3 linked regions of the Homo sapiens genome follow. The protein of the gene in region 3 interacts with the protein of the main gene of each other region in a pairwise test. Each region holds a gene or a part of one and is shown on either strand. Other genes may lie near its edges.

What was found. The genes of interacting proteins can lie anywhere in the genome.
Region 1: the proteins of SYT17 (region 3) and SSX2IP interact in binary tests that used the Homo sapiens proteins (3 or more experiments, as listed by UniProt).
Region 2: the proteins of SYT17 (region 3) and LZTS1 interact in binary tests that used the Homo sapiens proteins (3 or more experiments, as listed by UniProt).

Annotation. Positions count from the first base shown.
Region 1 is NC_000001.11:84,658,660-84,666,978, reverse strand, and holds part of SSX2IP (afadin- and alpha-actinin-binding protein), read left to right. Parts: intron 1-746; coding exon 747-857; intron 858-2,426; coding exon 2,427-2,562; intron 2,563-4,448; coding exon 4,449-4,524; intron 4,525-4,603; coding exon 4,604-4,781; intron 4,782-8,319. UniProt on the Homo sapiens protein: Belongs to an adhesion system, which plays a role in the organization of homotypic, interneuronal and heterotypic cell-cell adherens junctions (AJs).
Region 2 is NC_000008.11:20,251,162-20,259,480, reverse strand, and holds part of LZTS1 (leucine zipper putative tumor suppressor 1), read left to right. Parts: intron 1-4,165; 5' UTR 4,166-4,299; coding exon 4,300-4,644; intron 4,645-5,895; coding exon 5,896-6,699; intron 6,700-8,319. UniProt on the Homo sapiens protein: Involved in the regulation of cell growth. May stabilize the active CDC2-cyclin B1 complex and thereby contribute to the regulation of the cell cycle and the prevention of uncontrolled cell proliferation. May act as a tumor suppressor.
Region 3 is NC_000016.10:19,261,687-19,269,598, forward strand, and holds the end of SYT17 (synaptotagmin-17), read left to right. Parts: intron 1-5,193; coding exon 5,194-5,390; 3' UTR 5,391-6,646; downstream 6,647-7,912. UniProt on the Homo sapiens protein: Plays a role in dendrite formation by melanocytes.

The DNA of each region.
Region 1 (8,319 bases), on a different chromosome or scaffold from region 3:
CAGAAATTGTGCAAGTTATTATTTATGGTCGGTTAAGACATAATTTGATTGGCTTTTGAATTTTATAAAAATATTAGTACAATTTTAAAAATATTCCATATGGGTGGCCTCATGCAGAACTCGGCACAGTTCCTCAGATGCGATAAGTTGAAAAGGAGCATCTTGTTTCATACTAATTCTGGCTTTGCTGCCATTCCGCTCTGGGAAGTACCTTCAGAGACTTTACCACTTGCAGGGAGAAGTGGTGTCACACAGAAGTCCCATTTCTGTGACTTGATGTGTTGCCACTTTGCTTGGTCACCCATCTTTTTCTTCAGACTTAGCTCCAAATCACTTTTGCTTCTTTTTCAAAGCCAAGTATACTCTCGAAGGATGATGACATTGCTGTACTTGAGGAGATCTTCAAAAGTGTGGTATAGAAGTGTTAAAAAGTATTAAAAATAAACTTTAAAAATATTCAGGGGCAGCATCATGGAGTGATGCTCTTTCCAGGGATCCATTTTGAAGCACTTTTGTATATGTGTACAAAATTTGATATGTAGATTAAAATTTGATGTGTAAGTTTAAATGTTATTTTATAGTGTGCTTTGTAATAATTCCTTTAAATAAACATTTCATGTGCCACTAACATTTGATTTTGACTAATAAACACTAGGATGTATAACTTCTTGTTACTGATATTTTAAGGATTCAGTTATTCTAAATCCTTTATTAATTTTAAGCAAAATTGCTTATAAATGTTTTAGGAACAACTGGAAACCTCCAGGAGGGAAATGATTGGGCTTCAGGAAAGAGACAGACAGTTACAATGTAAGAACAGGAATTTGCATCAGCTACTAAAGAATGAGAAAGATGAGGTGAGTTGTCAGTTATTGCAGATGAAGTTTAAGTGAATTTTTGTTTTCTTTGTAATATGAGATGACCATAAGAGCCACTTTACTTGAAAAAAGAAAGAACCATTTATTCATCTTTCCCCAAATTGATATGGTGGACCTTTGTGTAATAGTATTTAACTGGAAGCTCAGGAACCCTCTCCACTACAGACCCCGCCCCCAGTGGATCCATTTGGCTTAGATATTAGTTCATAGCTGGTAACAGCCAGTGTCCTGGACTGCCCTTCCTGGACTCATGTTCACTGTCACTTTTTCTTAGGCACAAGAGTGCTTTAAATGCAGATCTTTTATTCTCTGCTGTACCTGTACGTGATAGCTGAGGTGCCCCTTCTTGCATGCACTGTCTTAAATATTGACATTGTTCGTCTAGTCAACCAGTTTCTTCATTAAATGGGCACAGAAGCAGTTCACATTAAAAATCTAATTTCTGACACAAAAGATACAATTCTGATTTCTGCTTTAGTGGTTACTTAGCAGAATTCTAATTTCTACTTTAGTGGTTACTTGGACCTATAGCACTAATGCATTTCAAAATATATTTTTTAATTTGTGTAGAAAGAAACTATTATGTTTTTATTGCTCTAAAGTATGACCCCTGACCATGTAATAACTATAAAAATATAATACTTAGTTTCAGTGTTTTATATGTTGTTTTAACTACAATTAAAGACTTCTGAGGAGTGTATTTCTTTAAAGCGCCCTGGAGTGGTTTAGATAGATTTGTTTTACCATATTTGTTTATTTAGTAGTATATTTAGTAAGTAGTAGGTAATTAGTATTTAAACTGTAAGGTTGCTTGTACGTGTTTCCTTGAGTTCACAGACAATTTTGACTAGATCTGTTGATTATATTTAAACGGTTTGAATACAGCTCATCTTCGGTAGGGATTAAGTTAATCATGTTGATCCCTAGCAGGGACTGGGAATGGCTTTATAAAAGAATAGGACATACTCTGTCAGGAGTTGCCTGAGAAACTATAATAGATCTAAATTTTGAACAGCAGTGTCTGGCACCTAGTAGATACTCAGCAAATATTTGGACTGGATTATTCTGCTGTTTGGACTTACTCTTACTCGAGAATTGTTTTTAATTAGAAAAACGAGCCTGCTTACCTGCTGCCATGTGTCACAGGCTTAATTCACTTTGTCACAGATTAATAAAAAGTATAAGTGATTGTAAGTCAGTAATACAAGGAGTTCACTAAAAATGATCAGATGAATTCTGTTTATCTCAGATGAAGTTTTAATCGTTTTAATACTTCCATAAGAATATCTGGTTTTTAAATGATCAGAGTCTATATGTAAGGTAAAAGGTATAGGAGATAATTTAGAAAATTAGCGCTTCTGGAAATTTCAGAATTAAAAAAACTTTATGTGATTCATATAATATTTAAAAAAGTGGTTTCTACTGGTTACAAATAAGGAAGAATCATCCTAGGATTTTAAAACCTATATGGGGAGATGAATTTTAGGATTTTTCTCTTTCAAATTTGTGAATCGTTACTGGGCTTATAATAGCAAATGCCTTTTTCAGGTGCAAAAATTACAAAATATCATTGCAAGTCGAGCTACTCAGTATAATCATGATATGAAGAGAAAAGAGCGTGAATATAATAAACTGAAGGAACGTCTACATCAACTTGTTATGAACAAGAAAGATAAGAAAATAGGTAAACAGCTGGCAAAGATCAGCTAAGAGAATAAATAAGCTAATACTATGCTTAGAAATAATTGTAAAAGGATTGAACACAGTAACTCACGAAATGTTATTTTCATGCTTTATACAATTGATTTTCAGTGGTGTTTGTTTATATAAAAAATGTAGACAACTGGTTAGTGGAAAGTAAGTCATTCTGCCTTGCTTTATTTAATTGCATGTATTTTTTAACATGACCAGTGTAGAATTAATCCATAGAGGAAAACTAAGCCAGAGGACATTCTAATTTTCCATAGCAAAGAACTGATAATATTAAAAATCAGTGTCAGTTTCTGAGTATCAAAAGAAGTATTTTAGAGTAAACCTCATAAAATTTTTCATCAGACCAAATCGTTCATGTCAGTTTGAGTTCCTTTAAATAAGTTTAGCTGTACATTTTTGGAGCAGCTAGTCAAAAGGATGGACTATAAAAGTTAGGCGTGTGTGTGTCTAAGGTATACTTTTTTCCTAATAGTAGTCTTTTTCAAAACTTTAAGCCATTTCATCCAAATATGTGGATAATTTCAAGTAGATAGTGTAAATTAAAAAGCAAAGAAACACGAAAGTAGAGCTTTACAATACAGTTTTGCTGGCCTGGTATAAATACGAGGCACAAGAAGTGTGTGTATTTATTTATTGAAGAGTGGTTTCCTAGTGACTATAGGTAGTCCTCTAACATACATTATACCGTGACACCCCTAAACTGTCTTACCTTAGATTTGAAAAACAGGCGATGAGCGTACGTTTCAGGCTGTCATGTGGTAGACTCTGCCTGCTGTCAGCAAGCAGTTTAGTGTTGACTACATCACTGTCATTCTGCAGCAGAGCTGTTGGAGGTATCTGAATACTTTATTTTTTAAATTGTTGAAAAATAGAAATGAAGATTCAGTAATGCGCCGTTAAGATTGGAAATCTTTAGGTATCCTGAGTTAATCTTACTCATTTGGAGAATCATTGGTTTTTAAGTTTAGTTAGCCTCATATTCATTCATGAAGGAAAAAAATTAAAAAGCAGGATGAAATGCTGAAAGTATAAAGTGTAACACAGAGAAGTTTATTAAGGATTTAGTTCTGGAAACAGAGCTCTTCCATTATAGCGGTCTGGCTGTTTCCTGGTCCAATCGGAAGTGACAGTTTCATAATGATTTTATTAACTCTAAGATTATAATAATTTACTCTTTTTCCTTTTTACGCCAAATGTTTCCATGTCCACCTGCAGCAGAAGATATTACTACTATCAGGGGCTTTGACTCCTTTGATGAAAATGATGATGTTAATGTTAACAGGACATGGCAAACTTTTTCTGTATAGATCCATATAGTAAACATTTTCAGCTTTATGGGATCTACAACTTATTTGTTGCACCTACTTATCTCTGCCATTGTAACAAGAAAAGTAGCCATAGGCAGTATATAAACAAGTAGATGTGGCTGTGTTCCCATAAAGCTTTATTTACAAAATCAGGCAGCCAGCCTGTGGGCCATTATCAGGCAACCCTGATAATGAAATTAATAATGATAAGGTAACATTTATTAAGTACTTACTGTGCGCCAGATACTGTGTTCACTCTACTGTGTTGGGTGCTTTAATAGTTATTTCTTTGTCTTCTCAACAACTCTTTGGTAGATACTTTTGTTATTCCCAGTGTCCAAGAAGAAACAGGCTAAGCAGTTAAATAATGTGCCGAGATCTCATTGCTTACAAGTGGTGGAACTAGAAACTCGAAAATTAGGCTGTTTAAGCCCAAATCCTAACCTATATACCAGGTTCACTTTCACCACTTACGTGTATAGAATGCATTAGAGTTTTAGATGCTTAAGCATGTATGGTAAGAATTAATTTTATGTGTTCATGTTTGTAGCTATGGACATTTTGAATTATGTCGGGAGAGCTGATGGAAAAAGAGGCTCCTGGAGGACTGGTAAAACTGAAGCCAGGTAAAGTCCAGTTTAAATTGATAAATGTAATCAGACTTCCTTCTATCCTGCATTTTCATACTGACAGTTTCTTTCTCAGGAATGAAGATGAAATGTATAAAATTCTCTTGAATGATTATGAATATCGTCAGAAACAAATCCTAATGGAAAATGCAGAACTTAAGAAGGTTCTTCAACAAATGAAAAAGGAAATGATTTCTCTTCTTTCTCCCCAAAAGAAGAAACCTAGAGAAAGAGTAGATGATAGTACAGGAACTGTAAGTGGCTCTTTCCTCTCTAATACAGTCTTCAGATTGCTAATAAGAATAATTAAAATATGTGGTAGGCATTCTCAATGGGGACACTATTGGTATTTTGAATAGGACACTCAACTGCTATGCTACTTTCAATTACTGTGACAACTGAAAAGACTGTTCCTATGTGTTTTCAGACATTTCCTGAAAAATGCTGGAGATGATTTTCCGGGGAATTAATACATGTCAAGCACTGTTAAGAAGTGCTTTATAAGCATTGTCTCATTTTATAATATTCCTCATAACATATGAGATTATTTCATATATTATAATTTGATGATTTAGATACTATAAATATCCCCATTTTATAGATAAGGAAACTAAGGCATAATATTTAGTAGCCCAGTATCACACATGACAGTGCTAGGATTTGAATCCAAGTTTCTCACTCCAGAGCTCACAATCATAACCACTATGTCAAATATCCTTTCAGTTGTTTTAGTATTATGTACTCTACTTTTCACAGAGTGAAACTTCTGTTAACTTTGGGAAACAAATATAAATTTATTGGGTGTTCTTTATGTTCTAGTCTCTGGAAAGGAAAGGCTAAAAAGATTTTGACTTTTTCCCTCAAGAAGCTCTTTTTGGGAAAGACAGACGTGGAGAAGTGATTATTACATGTGTTAGGTGCTGTAATAAGGTGGTACAATGTGCAGAACAGAATAGTTATGGCAATCAAGGCATCACAGAGAAAGTGACATTTTCACTGCTTCTTAGAAAATAAGTATTTTTGAGGTTAAAAAAAAAAACATGGAGAAAGCATTCCAGAGAATGGGAGTAATATATGCAGAGATCTGAAAAAAAAATCACATAATGGTGAAAAGTTCATTTTACTTAATTGCTTTACGTATAAGTTAAAATCGTAGGTTTCAGCAAGTTCACATTAGTGATAAAAATCTGAAAATAATGTTGATGGAAAATGCTAGTTAACAGCAAGATACCAGAACTTGTTTTTTAAACCTGTATTTGAGGATTATTTATTTTGTGGTATCACAAATCAGTCCAGCTGATAAGCCCATCCCAGCACTTACCTTTTTTTCTCCTTAACATTTAAAAAAAAAAATTACCTAAATTTTTTTTTTTTTTTTTTTTTTAAGAGACGGAGTCTTGCTCTGTTGCCAGGCTGGAGCGCAGTGGCACAATCTCGACTCGCTGCAACCTCTGCCTCCCGAGTTCAAGTGATTCCTCTGCCTCAACCTCCTGAGTAGCTGGGACTATAGGCAGCCGCCACCATGCCCGGCTAATTTTTTTTTTTTTTTTTTTTTTGTATTTTAGTAGAGACGGGGTTTTACCATGTTAGCCAGGATGGTCTCAATCTCCTGACCTCGTGATCCGCCTGCCTCAGCCTCCCAAAGTGCTAGGATTACAGGCGTCAGCCACTGCGTCTGGCCTTTTTGAGAGAGAGTTTTGCTCTTGTTGCCCAGGCTGGAGTCCAGTGGCACCATCTCACCTCACTGCAATCTCTGCCTCTCGGGTTCAAGCAATTCTCCTGCCTCAGCCTCCAGAGTAGCTGGGATTACAGGCATGCACCACCACCCACGGCCAATTTTGTATTTTTAGTAGAGACGGGGTTTCTCCATGTTGGTCAGGCTGGTCTCAAATTCCCGAATATCTTTTACATTCTCCATTTTGAGGCCTGCTTGACCTCTTATATGTAGTTAACCTCTTATCTCAAACTCTGTCACTTCTAGTCAGTTCTTAGCATTCACTAATACTTCTTCAAGGTTAGCATAGTGTCCATTACTACTGCAGCATCTTCAGTTTTTGGTCCAACCTTAACGTCTCATCATCAGATTTCAGTTAGCAAAAGTATGTGGTAAGTCAGGGAGATCTTTCTTCAGTGATTAAACCCTCCTCACCCCCATTACTCAGCCAGTGGGTAGTATCCTGTATAATTCTTCATAATTCACATGTTTAAGTGGATGAACAATGACCTCTTAAATATATATTCTAGTTTTAAAAGATCCATTTTTCTAGCTCCCTTTTCTCTTTAATTTTTGTAGGGAAAGATTTTTGAAGCATTATAGCAAGAGAAATAAGATGTAATGTTGGAATGCCTAGGTAGCATCCACATTTCATTTATTATTTGACCTACTTACTTGTAAAACATATACCGAAAATTCAGGTAAAATGAGTTTGTTGTTTTGTTTTTTGGTTTTTTAGAGGCAGGGTCTTGTTGCCCAGGCTGGTCTCGAACTCCTGGGCTTAAACAGTCATCCCACCTTGGCCTCACAAAGTGTTGGGATTACAGACATGAGCCACTGTGCCCAGCCGAATTTTTTATTTTCATTTTGTGGTTAGAGAGTTCTGTTCAATCTGAGAAATGTGCAATAATTATTCATTTTTCTTTCTTTTTTTTTTTTTTGAGATGGAGTCTCACTCTGTCGCCAGGCTAGAGTGCTGTGGTGACATCTCAGCTCACTGCAACCTCTGCCTCCCGGGTTCAAGTGATTCTCCTGCCTCAGCCTCCTGAGTAGCTGGAAGTACAGGCATGCACCACCACGCCCAACTAATTTTTGTATTTTTAGTAGAGACAGGGTTTCACCATGTTGGACAGGATGGTTTCGATCTCTTGACCTCATGATCCACCCACCTCTGCCTCCCAAAGTGCTGGGATTACATACAGGCATGAGCCACCGCGCCCGGCCAATAATTTTTCTAACAGATTGGTAGTATTCTAATAGGCTTTAAAATGTTCAGAAGAGAAGCTGTGCTTCCTTGGAAGAGTTACTGGCAAGTAGCTTTTGAGTATTGGCAGGGGCTAGAATCACCATGAGCCGGATCCTGGGCCATTCCCCTGTCTGCTCCGCCTCAGAGACCCTGACCTCTGCTAGCCCATTGCTGACCTCAACTACTGATAGAGTTCTTCAGACTCAGTTGCTCCCTCATCCTGCTGATCTCCATGTGCGAGCAGTCGAATCAGCCCTTCTTTCTTTTCATCTTTTATCTTTCTTTTTTCCCCAGCAAGATTTTTATTGTTCAAATTAGTGAAGTATATCTCTCTGCCTTCCTGAATATTAATGACAAATTAGAACTACTTTATGTAGATGTGGGTTATTATGACATATATCCCTTTTAGTATTGTTTCCCCATGTTCTTTATCCTGCTTTGATTCTGTGTGATCATATATCAGTAAAGTTTGCTACTTCTTTATGATTTCATGTTTGGCAGAATACAAAGAAAAGTATCTCCCGTTATATAAAAAAGTATATGAGGAAAATAGAATTAACAGTTGCTTTTATTAAATACTTCAGAGATTATTTCACAAGTGCATTTCTTTAAGCAGCCTAGGATTAGAAACAAGTTGATCTAATGTCAAATATCAGTTCTGCCTCTTAGTTGTAATGCTGCTTCTCTAAACCTCGGTTTTCCCACATTGTAATGAGCTGAGGGTTAAATAACGTGAAAACATCCAACACATTAGACAGGTAGTGATATCTCCTTCTCAGACAGCTTCATGACTCTTGTCATTAACTGTATTTGGATTCAAATTCAGGTTTAG
Region 2 (8,319 bases), on a different chromosome or scaffold from region 3:
AGACATTGGGAGGCTCCTTCAAGGCCCAGGTGAGAGGAGATGGAGGTGAGAGGAGATGGATGAGAACCATAAACAGATTCATTTAGCACCGATGCACTGATACTGTCAATAGCCTCCAGCGGTGTCATAGGCTTGAAGGCAACACATATCGTGCACACATCTGTAGATCGCCTACTACATGCCAGGCCTTGTATTTTCCTTCTGTTTGTTTCGGCTCCCTAATGTTCCTATTTAATATTAATATTTTCAGTTTGTAAATGAAGAAACCTCAGAGAGATTGATTTTCAAATCAAACTCCTGCCGATGCCACAGCTGATGGTCTGGTCTGTACAGCCCTGCAGGTACAGCTGCTCGGCAATGTGTATTGCATGGCAAAAAAAGGAGGAGCTGAGCATATTGCGCAGAGCACGGGAGGGTCTTTTGGCCCAAAATGACACCCCTGCATGTGGACCAGAGTAGTATTTTCGCCCCATAGGAACTAGAGGTGTTAGCTAAGCTAGGGATGGATGACCTAGGGGGATGAAAACACATTTTGTCAGTGTCAAGTTTATATCAGCAGAGCCACCCTGTGCTCCTAAGTCACACCTCGCAGGAATGGGAGGCAGAAAGGTTGCATTTAGAAGGAAAGGATTAGCTCTGGAAAGTGAGTTTGGACATTGAGGCTCCCCAGATCCATAGGGATGATGGATGTTGGCAAGGACAATGGTCACAATATAAGTAACAGATACCGATAACACTGCCTAGCATTTATTGAGTGCCCACTATGTACTAAGTATTGAGTAAATGTTCCAGAGCTGTTATCTTATGGTGGTATTTCTTAAATTTCTCATAACGATCCTATGAGGTAGGCTGCTTCACTGTATTTCCTCGAGTATACAAAGCCATCAATTCAATAAAAGCTTTTCACATCAAAACATATTAAACTTACACAACGAAGTTTTGTTGTGTCATGCTTTTCCTAACAAAATATAGAACATATTCATAACATAACCTCTTTATTCTTCAGGATGATAACGCAAGTTTGAATCGAAGCCTAGATATTCAGAGTCACAGAGTCTCCATGCACAACTGCTAATTGTAAAAAATATATATATAATAAAATTAAAATTAAAAAACAGAGTCAGAAAGTTTCTGGCTCCCTTTCAGCTGTGCCCATGCAGTTCTCCATGTCCCACCTGGGATTTCTTTAGCCCCTTTAGGATGGATGGTATAATTTAGAGCTCAGCGAAGAACAGAGGCTCCTTCCACATCTCCTGTTTTATTAAACTTGTGGCTTTCCCCTTCTTAATTGGATATCTGTCTTTTGACTAAGAAATACTTCACAGTGCATGACAATCACCAACCTTTCCTAGCTTTGAAAATTGTGTGATCTAAACTTAGAGATTTGCCTGAATCTGCACATGTGCTGGCACTGACATCCCAATTTCTCCTGTCTGGTGACTGACAAGGTTGTTATTGTTTAAGCATTGATTATTAGATGCTATCCTATTACTTTAAAAAAAAAATGTGCCCAGTCCGGTGGCTCACGCCTATAATCCCGGCACTTTGGGAGGCCTAGGCAGGTGGATCACCTGAGGTCAGGAGTTCGAGACCAGCCTGGCCAACATGGGAAAACCCCATCTCTACTAAAAATACAAAGATTAGCCAGCCAGTCATGGTGGTGCTCACCTGTAATCCCAGCTATGTGGGAGACTGAGGTGGGAGAATCATTTGAACCCGCGAGGTGGAGGTTGCAGTGAGCCAAGATCATGCCACTGCACTCCAGCCTGGGCAACAGAGTGAGACTCTATCTCAAAAAAAAAAAAAAAAAAAGTTTAAGGGTGTCTTAGAATTAGTTTGTAACACTGAAGGTTAAAGATATTAAACAGTTTACCTTCCATGTCATAGCTGGCAGGTGATGTAACTAGAATGCACACCAAGTCGGCTGGGTACTTCTCAACATTAAGGCTGTAATGACTTTCTCCTTCTTTCTCTCTTGAATCTTCTCAATGAGGCCTTCCTTCCACCATTCCTCCAAAACTGCTCTTGTCAAGGTTACCAAAGATCTCCACATGGCCAAATGCATTGACTAATTCTCAATTGTTATCTTACTTTCAGCAGCACTTGACAACTTTTTTTTTTGAGACAGGAACTCAGTCTGTTGCCCAGGCTGGAGTGCAGTGGCGTGATCTCAGCTCACTGCAACCTCCGCCTCCTGGGTTCAAGCTATTCTCATGCCTCAGCTTCCTCAGTAGCTGGGACTACAGGTGCGTGCCACCATGCCCAATTTGCCTGGCTAATTTTTTATATTTTTAGTAGAGACGGGGTTCCACCATGTTAGCCAGGCTGGTTTCAAACCCTTGACCTCAAGTGATCTGCCCACCTTGGCCTCCCAAAGTGCTGGGATTACAGGCTTGAGCCATTGCGCCTGGCCATTTGACACCATTTTTAGGAAACAATTTCTTGACTTGGCTTTCTTAGGTCTTCTATATCGACATCACCCTGAAAACCTTCTCTGCTGCTCTTTTTCACTTCTCCTAACCTGCCTGACCTCCAGATGCCGAGTGCTCCATGTTAACCATCCTCAGGCCTCTCTTGTCTTTCTGCATCCGCTCTTTGGTGACCCCATCTAGTCTCATAGCCACTTCCACACTCCCAGCTCTGACAAGTGCATCTGCAGCTCCCAGCAGCTGCCCACTCACCCTCCTGCCTACTCTCCATCACTCCCTGGATGCCAAATAGGCTTTGCAAACTGAATGTCTTCAACCAAACTCCTCTCTTTGGCATTGTCCCTGACTCCTCTCTTTCGCTCACTCCCTACATCTGATCCTTTAGCAAGTCCTGTCAGCTCAACCTCAAAATTACATTGAAAACTGTTTTTTAGAGACAGGGTCTCACTGTGTTGCCCAGGCTGGTCTTGAACTCCTGGCCTCAAGTGATCCTCCTGCCTTGGCCTCCCAAAATGCTGGGATTACAGACGTGAGCCACCACCACATCTAAATCCACAACTACCACCCTAGACTATTAGCCTGTAATTGGCCACCACTTCTATCCCCCGTCTCCTCAATAAGCTTCTTCCCCACCCGGAAGCCAGAGTGACCTTCCCCAACCTAAGGCAGATCAAGGTGTCAGCTGCTTAAAGCCATCCAGGGGCTCCTTGTCTCAACCCAAGCAAAGCCAGAGCTCTTTGAGCTGCACAGCCTCCTTGTTCTCTGATGTCTGCTGGCTCCTGGTTTCTGTTTCTCCTTCCCAGCCTTGCTAATTGTTCTCCAGCCAGGCTGCTTCCCATGTGGGTCTCACACAGCCAAGCCCCCTCTGCCTCAGGGACTCAGGCTTTTATACTTGGGGTTTCTTCTGGTACCCCTCTCCCCCTAGATTTTCATATGACTTGCACCTCATTTTCTTTTCTTCTTCTTCTTTTTTTTTTTTTTTTTTTTTTTTGAGTCAGGCCCAGGCTGGAGTGCAGTGGCACAATTGTGGCTCACTGCAGCCTTGATCCCCGGGGCTCAGACGATTCTCCCACCTCACCCTCCCAAGTAGCTGGGATTACAGGTGTGCACCACTACGCCCGGCTAATTTTTGTATTTTTAGTAGAAATGGGGTTTCTCTAAGTTGCACAGGCTGGTCTCGAACTCCTGGACTCAAGCAATCTGCCCACCTCAGCCTCCCAGAGTGCTGGGATTACAGGTGTGAACCATCATGCCTGGCTGCCCCCTCATTTTCTTGAAGCCTTTTAAAATGCTACCCTAACAAAAGAAGACCTTCCTGCATAAAACAGCCACCTCCCAGAATTCTGTTCTGTCCTCTCTGCTCCAGTTTCCCCCGCAGCACTGGTACCCGCAGCACTGGTACCCGCAGCACTGGTACCACTTGCTATAGTATACATTGGTTTGCTTCTGGCCTCTCCACACCACTGTAACCCTAAGTTCCAGGAATGCAGGGACTGTGACTGTTTTAGTCACTTGCTGGGTCCCGAGTGTTTAGAGTAGAGGCTTGCATGAAGTGGGCTCCCAGTGAATGTTTGTTGAATTATCAGACAAAGGAAGAAGGAACGGAGCACCCGGTGGTGGAGACAGTGCTGGGCTCTGACATGTGTTTCTCTACTGCCCAGATCTGGAAGTCGGAATCAGCACTGTGCTGTGACCACTCCCACCCACGCTGACTTCTGTCTTGTGTCTTCTTCCAGGTCTACGGCTCTCGCAGGCTCTGTGAGGGCTTTGCTATGACCTCAGTCCCCTCACGGAGCCACGACTGCCCCTTGCTGCCACAGCCTTTCCAAGACCCTGCCCGGCCCTGCCCCATCCTCAGCCCCGAGTCACCATGGGCAGCGTCAGTAGCCTCATCTCCGGCCACAGCTTCCACAGCAAGCACTGCCGGGCTTCGCAGTACAAGCTGCGCAAGTCCTCCCACCTCAAGAAGCTCAACCGGTATTCCGACGGGCTGCTGAGGTTTGGCTTCTCCCAGGACTCCGGTCACGGCAAGTCCAGCTCCAAAATGGGCAAGAGCGAAGACTTCTTCTACATCAAGGTCAGCCAGAAAGCCCGGGGCTCCCATCACCCAGATTACACGGCACTGTCCAGCGGGGATTTAGGGGGCCAGGCTGGGGTGGACTTTGACCCGTCCACACCCCCCAAGCTCATGCCCTTCTCCAATCAGCTAGAAATGGTAAGCGGGGGTCGCTGGCAAGGGTAAGTGGGTTGGAAACGCAGGAGAAAGCAAAATGGGGGTGGAGAGCCTGGGGGTTCAGGGGGAGTGGTGACCTGAGCATTCAGACTCCTCAAAACCAGAGCGGCAGGGGTGCCGGCGGAAGCCTGTGGCCACACCGCAGAGATCAAACGTTTCACAAAGGAATTAGAGCATCGCTCAGTCCCCCTGAAGCAGAAGTCTTGGGTCAGGCCATAAGCAAAGAGCACAGGGGATATGTGAGCTTTCTGGAGTCCCACTGAAATGTAGCTGGATTGTCAACGTAGGATCCAGGCGTTTGCCAAGCCTCGGGAAGGAGAGGGAGCCCTGTTCTCATCTGGAAGCACAGATGAAGAGGATGCAGGCCGGGAGTTAACCGCTTCTCTCCCCGGGAGACTCGTGGGGGTGGGTGCGGTCTTCTCATTTGCTGCCCTGGTGTGCATTAGCTCCTTGTTCAAGCTGCGCCTGGGGGCATCTTTGAATACAGGCTGGAGTTTTGTCATCCATTTACCAGAGATTAGGGCAAAGGAGGCCCAGGCACTGAGAAATCCAGCCCTCACACCAGCTCAAGCCCTCGTGCGTCCCACGAGTGGACACTGAAATCAATTTTCCTATTCAGTCCTCTGCCCCTTGCCCTGGGGAAATGAATCCCCGGCTTTGATTTACTAGGAAAGAGCCTCTTATGTTTGCATAGAGCATTCAGCTTTTCAAATTAAGGGGCTTGTAAACTGTGAAGCACTCTACCAGGGAAAATTACAGTTTTAAAAAAGGATCGTGATTTGGAGTGAGCCTCCCAACCCTGTAAGGAGGCCAGGTCCGTGTCCTTGCTCCAGGCTTAATGGAAGAGGCAGTGAACAGGAAGAAGGGATGGACCTAAAGAGGGACAGCAAGCTCGGCCAGCCTGATGCCCTAACTTGCCCCACACAGAGACCTAGAGCAGGAGCCTCAAGATGGTATTTATCACCTCGGGAGGGCTGGGGCAAGCTGGTGGCAGGTTGCTATTTCATAGAACAAAGTGCCCAAGTCGCCATTAGGGTTTTTCCTTCCTAAGAGAGATGACATTCAGCTGCTTCAAAGCAACAGGCAAGGTCTGCTGAGACAATTGACCAAGAGGGGTGCTGCGTGCGCTCAGAGAGCCCAGACTGGCTCAAGGTCGGCACGCGTGCCTGGGGAGGGAGGGTGCAATGCGCGCGCAGGGGAGGCATGAGTCACCGCGGTCCTTTTCCTCTACAGGGCTCCGAGAAGGGTGCAGTGAGGCCCACAGCCTTCAAGCCTGTGCTGCCACGGTCAGGAGCCATCCTGCACTCCTCCCCGGAGAGTGCCAGCCACCAGCTGCACCCCGCCCCTCCAGACAAGCCCAAGGAGCAGGAGCTGAAGCCTGGCCTGTGCTCTGGGGCGCTGTCAGACTCCGGCCGGAACTCCATGTCCAGCCTGCCCACACACAGCACCAGCAGCAGCTACCAGCTGGACCCGCTGGTCACACCCGTGGGACCCACAAGCCGTTTTGGGGGCTCCGCCCACAACATCACCCAGGGCATCGTCCTCCAGGACAGCAACATGATGAGCCTGAAGGCTCTGTCCTTCTCCGACGGAGGTAGCAAGCTGGGCCACTCGAACAAGGCAGACAAGGGCCCCTCGTGTGTCCGCTCCCCCATCTCCACGGACGAGTGCAGCATCCAGGAGCTGGAGCAGAAGCTGTTGGAGAGGGAGGGCGCCCTCCAGAAGCTGCAGCGCAGCTTTGAGGAGAAGGAGCTTGCCTCCAGCCTGGCCTACGAGGAGCGGCCGCGGCGCTGCAGGGACGAGCTGGAGGGCCCGGAGCCCAAAGGCGGCAACAAGCTCAAGCAGGCCTCGCAGAAGAGCCAGCGCGCGCAGCAGGTCCTGCACCTGCAGGTACTGCAGCTTCAGCAGGAGAAGCGGCAGCTCCGGCAGGAGCTCGAGAGCCTCATGAAGGAGCAGGACCTGCTGGAGACCAAGCTCAGGTCCTACGAGAGGGAGAAGACCAGCTTCGGCCCCGCGCTGGAGGAGACCCAGTGGGAGGTGAGGCCACACAGGGCTCATGGGTTTGGGTGGTCAGCGGTTTGGCGCCAGTACCCCCCTCTCCTTCTGGTGCCGGCCAATAGCGTGCAAACACAGACCGCGCAGGCAAGCGGGGCTAATGTGCTGGCTTTATCACCCAAAGAAGGGGCTCCCTGCAAACCATGTTGGGGGATCGACTTACATCTGAGCTTCCTCCTGTCCCCACCATCACCCTCATGGCTCCTAGATTTCAGTTTCCCAAGTGAGCCATTAAATCATGAAGCCGGAAGCCAGATGACCAAGGCCCAGCCAGGCTGTGGGCTGACCTCCCTTCCATCAGCTCCCAGGAGGCTCAGAAGAAGAACAAGCCGTGCCTGAGTTCAGGCGGGGCCAGGGGCCCAAGAGAGCACAGAATGCATTTGTTGCTTTGGAGGGAGGGACTGCACCCACTAGTAAGAGGGACCCTATTGGTGGCAGGTTTCAGTGATGGAAGTGGCCACTCCTTGCTGAAGTGTAAGTGGAACTTCTATTTGGTGAGCTGAGATGGAAACCTAGGAGAGGAAGTAAAGAGTCCCCCACTCACACACTTACACACTCACACACACTCACTCACCCGGTCACACGTGGAAATGAGGCATCTGTACCTGACCGTGCTGGAGAACCCCATAACCTCTGCATCTATTAGTGGGAAAGCAGCTTTTCTCACCAGCCTGGTGGTCTGGATGACTCATGGAGTTCAAGCCCATCGTTGAGGCTCTTTACATGCTCGCACCCAGCTTGGTCTGTCCACGTGCCTGCCTCACCCCCAGTTCAGAGTCCAACTCTCAGTCTACACGCAAACCCCTGGCTATGTGCAAGTCAACAACCAGTGGTTTAACTTGCCCACTGCTGGCAGCTGTATCACCCCCATTTAACACCAATGGTATTGGTTTTGGTGTCAGCCTGATTTCCGTCATCGACGTTTATGCCCACATCCTCTGACCTCACCCCTGCATGCACCCAGCCCTCCTCTCTCCTGTCTACTGGAGTAAAGACTACCTCACAAATTCACTGCTGTACCCAGTGACTAGTATCATGCTGGCTTGGATGCAGAGCCCAATCCACATCTGTCAAACGAGGAATCATTGTCTTCTCCTCTTGCTCTTCTTCTCTATTTCCACCCCTATCCCCCATCAAAATTTGGCCAAGAGCAATGATGAAAACCGAAGCCACAGGTTAGACCCATGTGTCTCTGGATCTTGGCCATCTGGGGTCATGGGAGACCAAGGCCAGTCTGGCTGAATCTTAAGAGTGAATGAAGTCCAGAGCATGTGGCTCTACAGAATGGATTCTTGGAACTAGCCTGGAAGCCACCTTCACATTTCCTTTCACAGTAGAAATTTCCCCTTGCCCTCAGTGAAACACTGCACAGTCCTGGAGAAAATCCGACCCTACCCAGGATGCGTGCTTGGGACCAAGAATTTCATTCCAAGGCCAACCCTGTATTCATGCCACGAAGGGAGTGACACAGTCATGGCTGAGGCATGGGCCTGGCTTTGAACCTCAGCTTGACCACTTATGATCCAGGTGATTGTAAATACATTAGCCATGGTGGCAATGGGGTATAGTGATTAAACTGTTGGGATCAAATCTCTACTCTTA
Region 3 (7,912 bases):
ATCCATATTGTTTTCTTCAGGTATATTAACATTCTTTTTAACAAAAAGATTGTGCTTACATATACTGTTTTGTAATGTGCTTTTGTCTCCTAGCAATATGTGTTGGAGATTTTTCCATTTCATATAGATAAGTCTGTCTCATTTTTAATGGCAACATGGATTTCCGTGGTATTATTATCTCAGAAGTTATTTAATTCATTTCCTCCAGTCTTATTCTAGGTACCTCCCAAAGACAAACTTAGTGACATGAGCTCAAGTAGGCTACTAGGAGGTGACCTCAGGAAGCTTGAATAAGGGAATGGCAAATAAGACAGGAAAAGGAGGAAAACAAATCAAGGATGTTTGGCGAGTGGATATCTGCAGTATAGGGGGTCTTCAAAATCACCCTCAGGTCCAATGATTCACCACAGAACTTGGAAAAACTGTTATTCTCATGGTTACAGTTTATTACAGAAAAAGCATACAGACCAAAATCAGCAAAGTGAAAGATTGCTGCTATGGTCTGAATGTTTTGTTCCCCCAAAATTCTTATGTTGAATCCTAATCCCCATGTGGGAGGTGATTAGACCATGAAGGCTCTGTCCTCATGAATGGGGTTGGTGCCCTTATAACAGAAACCCAAGAGAACTGTCTTGCTGCTTCTATTGCATGAGAAGGCACCACCTATGAAGGAGAGCAAGCCCTCACCAGACACTGAATCTGCTGGTACCTTGATCTGGGACTTCCTAGCTTCTGGAACCATTAGGAAATAAATTCCTGTTGTTTATAAGCCTCCCTGTTTATGGTAATTTGTTATAGCAGCCCAGCAGACTAAGAAAGGGGAAAGAGTCCTCTTTGTCATAGGAAAAAGTCCAAGAGAGACCAGATGCAAGCTTCCAGTTGTTCTCCTCAACTGGAGTTATACGAGCAGTGCCTAATTCTCCTTGCAAGGATGTGTGACAACACACTTAGGGTATTGCCACCCAAGAAGACTCACCTGAGCCTTGGTGTCCAGCATAGTTAGAGGACGTTGGTCATATAGTCATGGCTGACCATCTGGGTAGCTGAGCCTCCTTGCAGAGGTAGCTTGCAGAGGTCCAGCTAATGTTGAGTGGCCCAAGGTCCTCACCATAAATCACAGTTAGCACAGACAAGCTGGCATGGCTCAGGCAGGAAGCTGCAGGTGCTTGAGGAAGGACACTATCTATAGAAACCATGAGTAGCCTCCAAGGTGGGCTGAGGGGTAGGCAGGGCACCAACAGCCCCAGCTACACTCCCTCAGGGACAGTCTTGCCATTTCCCGTTTTTCATTCTTATAAACAATGCCCTGGTGCAGGGGTCAGCAAACTTTTCTATAAGGAGTCAGATAATCTTTTTTTTTTTTTTGTATTCCCTTTTGGCAATTTGTTTAATTGAGATAAAATTCACATAACTTAAAACTCACCCTTTTGGTGTATACGATTCAGTGCTTTTTAGTATATTTTCAAGATTGTGCAACCAACACCACTATCTAATTCCAGAACATTTTTATCACCCCAAAAAGGAGCCCTGTGCCAATTAGCTATCACACCCCATTCCCTCTTTCCTCTATCCTTGATAACCACTAATGGTAATTTCTGTCTCTAAAGATCTGCCTATTCTGGACATTTCATATAAATGGATCATAATATATGACCTTAAAAACTTGGTACATAGGCCAGCCATGGTGACTTATGCCTGTAATCCCAGCATTTTGGAAGGCCGAGGTGGGCAGATCACCTGAGGTCAGGAGTTCAAGACCAGCCTGCCCAATGTGGCAAAACCCTGTCTCTACTAAAAATACAAAAATTAGCCAGGCATGGTGGTGGGCACCTGTACCCAGCTACTTGGGAGTCTGAGGCAGGAGAATCACTTGAGCCCGGGAGGCAGAGGTTGCAGTGAGCCGAGATCACGCCACTGCATCCCAGCCTGGGTGACAACAGTGAAATTACAACTCAAAAAAAAAAAAAAAAAAGAAAAGAAAAAAAAAACTTGGACATAAATGTTTACAGTAGCATTATCCATAATAATAGTCAAAATGTGGAAACAACCCAAATGTCCATCATCTGATGAACAGATAAGCAAAACATGGCATATCCATACAATGGAACGTTAGCTGGCCATAAAAAGTAGCACTACAACATGGATGAACCAGACAGATAGCAGATATGTGAGGCTTTGAGAGCCACATGGCCTCCAAATTATTCAGCTGCTGTGGTCTGAATAGTTGTCCCCCACCCTGCCAAATTTGTATGTTGAATTCCTAACCCACAAAGTGATGGCATTAGGAGGCGGGACCTTTGGGAGATGATTAGGTCATGAAGGTTGGAGCCCTCATAATTGGGATTAGTGCCCTTATAGAAGATGCCCCAGAGAACTAGCCTGTCCCTTCCACCATGTGGGGACTCAGTGAGAAGATACCACCTATGAGGAAGCAGCTTCTCACCAGACACCGAATTTGCCAGTGGCTTGATCTTGAACTTCCCAGCCTCCAGAACTGTGAGCAATAAGTTTTTGTTGTTTATAAGCCACCCAGTTTATGGCATTTTGTTACAGCGGCCTGAATGGACTAAGACATCAACTCTGCCCTTTTTGCACAAAAGCAGCATTATGTAAACAAATGGGTTTGACTGTGTTCCAATAAAACTTTATTTACAAAAACAGGTAGTAGTCCATATTTGACTGGGAGGCTCTAGTTTGCCCATTCCTGCTATATAAAATATCCTTGTATGTGTATTTTTGTCCATTTGTGCAGAAAATTCTATGGGATCAATTCCTAGAAGTGAAATTGCTGAGTCATGAGTTATGACATATTTATTTTGAACAGATGCTGTGAACCACCCCAAAATTTGAACCAACTTGCTTTTCCACCAGCGGCACATGAGAGTACGTGAGACTGAGATTTCCCCCACCTTTTTTTTTTTTTGAGACAAGCAAGGTCACTTTGCTACCCAGGCTAGAGCCAGTGCAGTGGCACCATCACTGCAGCCTTGACTTCCCTGGACTCAGGTGATCCTCCCACCTCAGCCTCCTGAGTAGCTGGGACTACAGGCACACACCACTATGTCTGGCTGATTTTTTGTATTTTTTAGTAAAGGCAGGGTTTTTCCATGTTGCCCAGACTAGTCTCAGACTCCTGGGCTCAAGCGATCCACCTGCCTCAGCCTCCCAAAGTGCTGGGATTACAGATGCGAGCCACCGTGCCCAGTCAGAATTTCCTTTCTTAAAGCCCTTTCACAAAGAAGTAGAACCCATACCCATTTAGAAGGGAAGTTTCTGCATTGTCATTCTTGAGCTTTGGAGAGGAAGAAGAAGATAGAACATTTTGCCCCCAAAGAAGAAAACTAAATGGGGCCTGAAGTGGTCTCATAATAGTATCTTATTTTAGATTTGAGGCTCACAGGGAAGGGGACTCTGGTAACTTGTCCTCATTTGGTGAGATCAAACCTTACACTGCCCACTAAGTGTCATTCCTAAAAGCCTTGAGTGTTACCTGTTCAATTATTTTTTCAAATGCAGAGAGCTCCTTAGCAATTTCATTTATTAAGCAAAGCTTCCATTCCTATTATTTCTCTTTGTAAGTAATTTGCATGTAAATGAGGTCCACCTATGCATACTGAGCATGTTACCAAATGTACAAAAAATATACATGGTCCAATTTTTCTCCACAGAGCTGACAGGTACCCATCCCTCTTGCTGAAGATGACATAGTATTTCACGTAGCCTAGTTTTCCCTAAGTCTTTTTGGCTTTTGGACGATGGATGGAGTTTTTGTTTTTATTTTTCCATTTTTCTTTTTTCTCCCTCATTTTCATCATTTGGAATTCGTGGTGTGAAACCCACAGGGGAGAACAGAGGCTCATTAGCATTCAAGCTCTGTTTTTGGCAGCATATTTTAGTTGCTTTATATGATATTCAGCATCCCTCCTGGGATCTAGCCTGCCTTTGCTCGGCTCACGCTGGGTGAATCTGTGATATTTCCCATTCTGTAGCCCTTCATTTATAACACAGGCATAGCCTGCTTTCCCATTAGTGAGATGGCATGCCTGGACTACCCACACACAGATCAAGAATTAGGCGGAACTTGGCCGGGAAGATAAATCAAGTTAACCGTCTCATTAGGCTTGAAAGACACAAATTAAGCTGAAGTTGGGATTAACAGAGAAGCCTTTCAAAGAGACATGCAGCACAACAAGGGGTGGAAGAAGTTGCCGTAGCCATTACTCTCAGAAAATTTCCAGCATTTGATGGAACAGAGGAAACATGAAGTCTCTTTTATAAAAGGTCAACAGACAGAAATTTAGGCTCAAAATAGCAGTATAACATTTGTTGAGCTCTTACCACCTGCTTGGCACTGTGTGCTGAGAGCTTTACACACATTATTTCATAGAAATTGCACATTGACCTATGAGAGAAGCACTACTAAAATTCCTGTTTAACTAATAAAGAAACTGAGGCTCAGAGAGGTTACTTCGCCTGCCTCAGAGACACAGAGCTTGGTCAAATGATAGAGCCAGGATTCACTCCCAGGATATTTGGTCCCATGGCCCATGGCTTAACCTAGTGGTTCCCGTTTGGGATGCATTGGCCTCCGCAGGGGCCATTTGGCCATGTCCGAAGACATTTGGGGTTGTCACAGCTGTAGAGAGAGCTGCTACCAGCTTCTAGTACGTAGGTACCCGGGATGCTGCTAAACTTCCTACAGTCCACAGGACAGTTACGGCAAAGGATTATCCCGCCCATAATGTCAACAGTTCCATGATTGAGAAACCCTGGTTTAATCGCTCAACTGGACTACATTGACAGGCTCACTGTTCCACTAGAACTATCCACTTACAGAGCTCTATATGCAGTGTGGTGATGCCGTGGGACATACGTTTAAGGCTGCATATTGCAGGCGGTGCAGCTGTCTGGCAGAAGGAACAGCCAATGCCAAGGCTGAGAGGTAAGAATCTGGCTGGCATGGGATGGCAGGAAACCAGGTGCAGCTGTTGCAGAGACTCACAGGAGGATGAGATGAGGGAGTTGGACTTCTCACCAAGAAAAGGAAAAAGACAGCGTGCCCTAAACGATGACCCCCATGTTTGCAGTTGACAAATGTGTAGACTAATGGCCTCTTGTCTTCTCCCTGCCTTCCTGTTCTGTTCCCCTCCTTCCTCTTGCCTCCCTCCTGCCCTCAACCCTCTGGCTCCCTAGTTTTCGGCCACAACATGAAGAGCAGCAATGACTTCATCGGGAGGATCGTCATTGGCCAGTACTCTTCAGGCCCCTCTGAGACCAACCACTGGAGGCGCATGCTCAACACGCACCGCACAGCCGTGGAGCAGTGGCATAGCCTGAGGTCCCGAGCTGAGTGTGACCGCGTGTCTCCTGCCTCCCTGGAGGTGACCTGAGGGCTGCAGGGAAGGCAGCTTTCATTTGTTTAAAAAAAAAAAAAAAAGACGGAAAAAAATGTGTCACATACTATTACATCCACACCTGCATACACACTCGCAACATGTCTACACACGTCCACACACACAGACACACAGATACCCCAAATCCTCTCAGAACTGAGAGGAAGCTGACTATTGATCACAAAATGGCCGCCCTCAGTTGAGTGAGGCCTAGGAACTTTCCGGAAGCCCCATCCATAGATCACAAGCTCAGTGGGCTCTGCCGTGGGACTTATTGGCAGTGCCTGCTCTTGTCAATACTCCTGCCCCAAAATGCACTTTCAACCCTCAGGCCAGAGAAAGGACCTCCCAAAGGGTGCCAAGCTCCATCAAGACTAAATTTACCAAGAGTTTGGCCAGTGTGTGGGAGACTTGAACACCCCCCACTTCCGAAACACACACCTACTGGGTAACTTCTGAACAGGCTGCTGTTCCCTGGGGTTCTTCAAACCTGATACCTTTCTCCAAAGGTGTAAGTATCTTTGTCTTCTCCGTAGTAAATGTGATAACTAGATTATGGGCCATTTGGAGAAACCAAATGGCAACCAAAACTATTCCAGTGTCAGAAGCCTTTCCTGGCTTAACAGAATTGTTCTTGTGTTAGCTCATCCCAGGGAACGCCCTGTGGGTATGTATGTGTATGTCCTCGTGCATGTGCCCTCACAGGCGAACACGTGTGTGCCTATGTGTCCTCTTGGAGAGCATGGCGATGGGCCAGGACCTCAGCCCTGAGCACTGCCTTCTCTCTGCCTCTCCTGTCCAGTGAGAGTCCAACCAGTGTCCTCCTGTCTGTCAGAGATCCCACTTTGGATAAAAGTAGTGTGTGTGTGTGTGTGTGTGTGTGTGTGTGTGTGTAAAGTAAATAGGATATGATAGAGCAAAAGTAACATTTTTTGACCGAATCATGGTGATTGTGACCCACGAAAGACATACAAAGACTTGATATATGGATTAAAATGGCTATCACACCCCATCCATGATGATCTTCTTCCTTAATCATACTCTGAGGATCTTTCTGTGTTTTTCTGTGAACGAATGTCACGTCTCTCGTGCTAAGGAATTAGTGTAGTTAGAATAGATCTCTCTCTCTCTCTCTTTCTCTCTCTCTCTTTCCTCTCTCTCTGTTGGATGCTTCTGTATCTTTTTCCACAGCATAATGTCTGGTGTGATGGGGAGCTATTTATTGAAATTAAAGATTATTTATTTGTGCCATGCATTCGAGTTATCTTTTTCTTCATGAACACAGGACATAGAAGGTGGGAGGGCATTGCAGCTAGTACTGCTGTGTAACAAACCATACTGAACAAGTCAAAACAATGATTTTTTTTTTTTTGAGACAAAGTCTCACTCTGTTGTCCAGGCTGGAGGGTAGTGGTGCAGTCTCTGCTCACTGCAACCTCTGCCTCCTGCATTCAAGCAATTCTCCTGCCTCAGCCTCCCGAGTGGCTGGGATTACAGGTGTGCACCACCACCCCTGGCTAATTTTTGTATTTTTAGTAGAGACAGAGTTTCACCATGTTGGCCAGGCTGGAATTGAACTCCTGGCCTCAAGTGATCCACCTGCCTCAGCCTCAGCCTCCCAAAGTGCTGGAATTACAGGCATGAGCCACTGCACCCAGCTTCAAAACAATGATATTTATTATACTGATAGATTTTGGGGGTCAAGAATGTTGAGTATTTGCAATATGTCTGTCTGACTTGAGCAGTGTACTAATGCCAATTATTCCAGTGTTGCTCTTCTATATAAAACTTTTCACTTCCTCAGGGCAAGATTCACGGCTTATTTAGCATTTTGTTGGCCAAGCCCTGCTAAGGGCATGACCCAGGTAACTGCTCCATGGGCTAAAATGGCTTCACCCCTCAGGCTACATTGGGTATTGCAGAGAGAACCTCATGGTGTCTCCCATTCTGGAGTGGAAGTGTTGTGGAGGTCAAGGGGGAGAAACAGGGAGGCTGGGTTAGGTTGATGTATTCATCCATTTTGCATTGCTGTAAAGGAGTACCTGAAACTGGGTAACTTATAAAGAGGTTTATTTGGCTCATGGTTCTGCAGGCTATACAGGAAGCACAGTGCTGGCATCTGTGTGGCTTCTGTTGAGGCCTCAGGAAGCTTACAATCATGGTAGAGGGCAAAGGGTGAACAGGCGTGTCACATGGCAAGAGAGGAAGTGAGAGAGGAAGAGAAGGAGGTGCCAGGCTCATTTAAACAACCAGCTCTAATAGAGTGAGAACTCACTCATCACCAAGCCGTTCATGAGGGATCCACCCCCATTACCCAAATACCTTCCACCAGGCCCCACCTCCAACATTGGAGATCACATTTCAACATGAGATCTGGAGGGGGAAACAACATCCAAACCATATCAGTTAAGTTCTCAGAAAAGGAGAAGTGTTTTCCTTCTCTATGAAATGGCTTCATTACTGTGGTTTACAGTAGAAGATAAAAGCATAAAAGAACAAACAAAATGAGTGAAGACAGG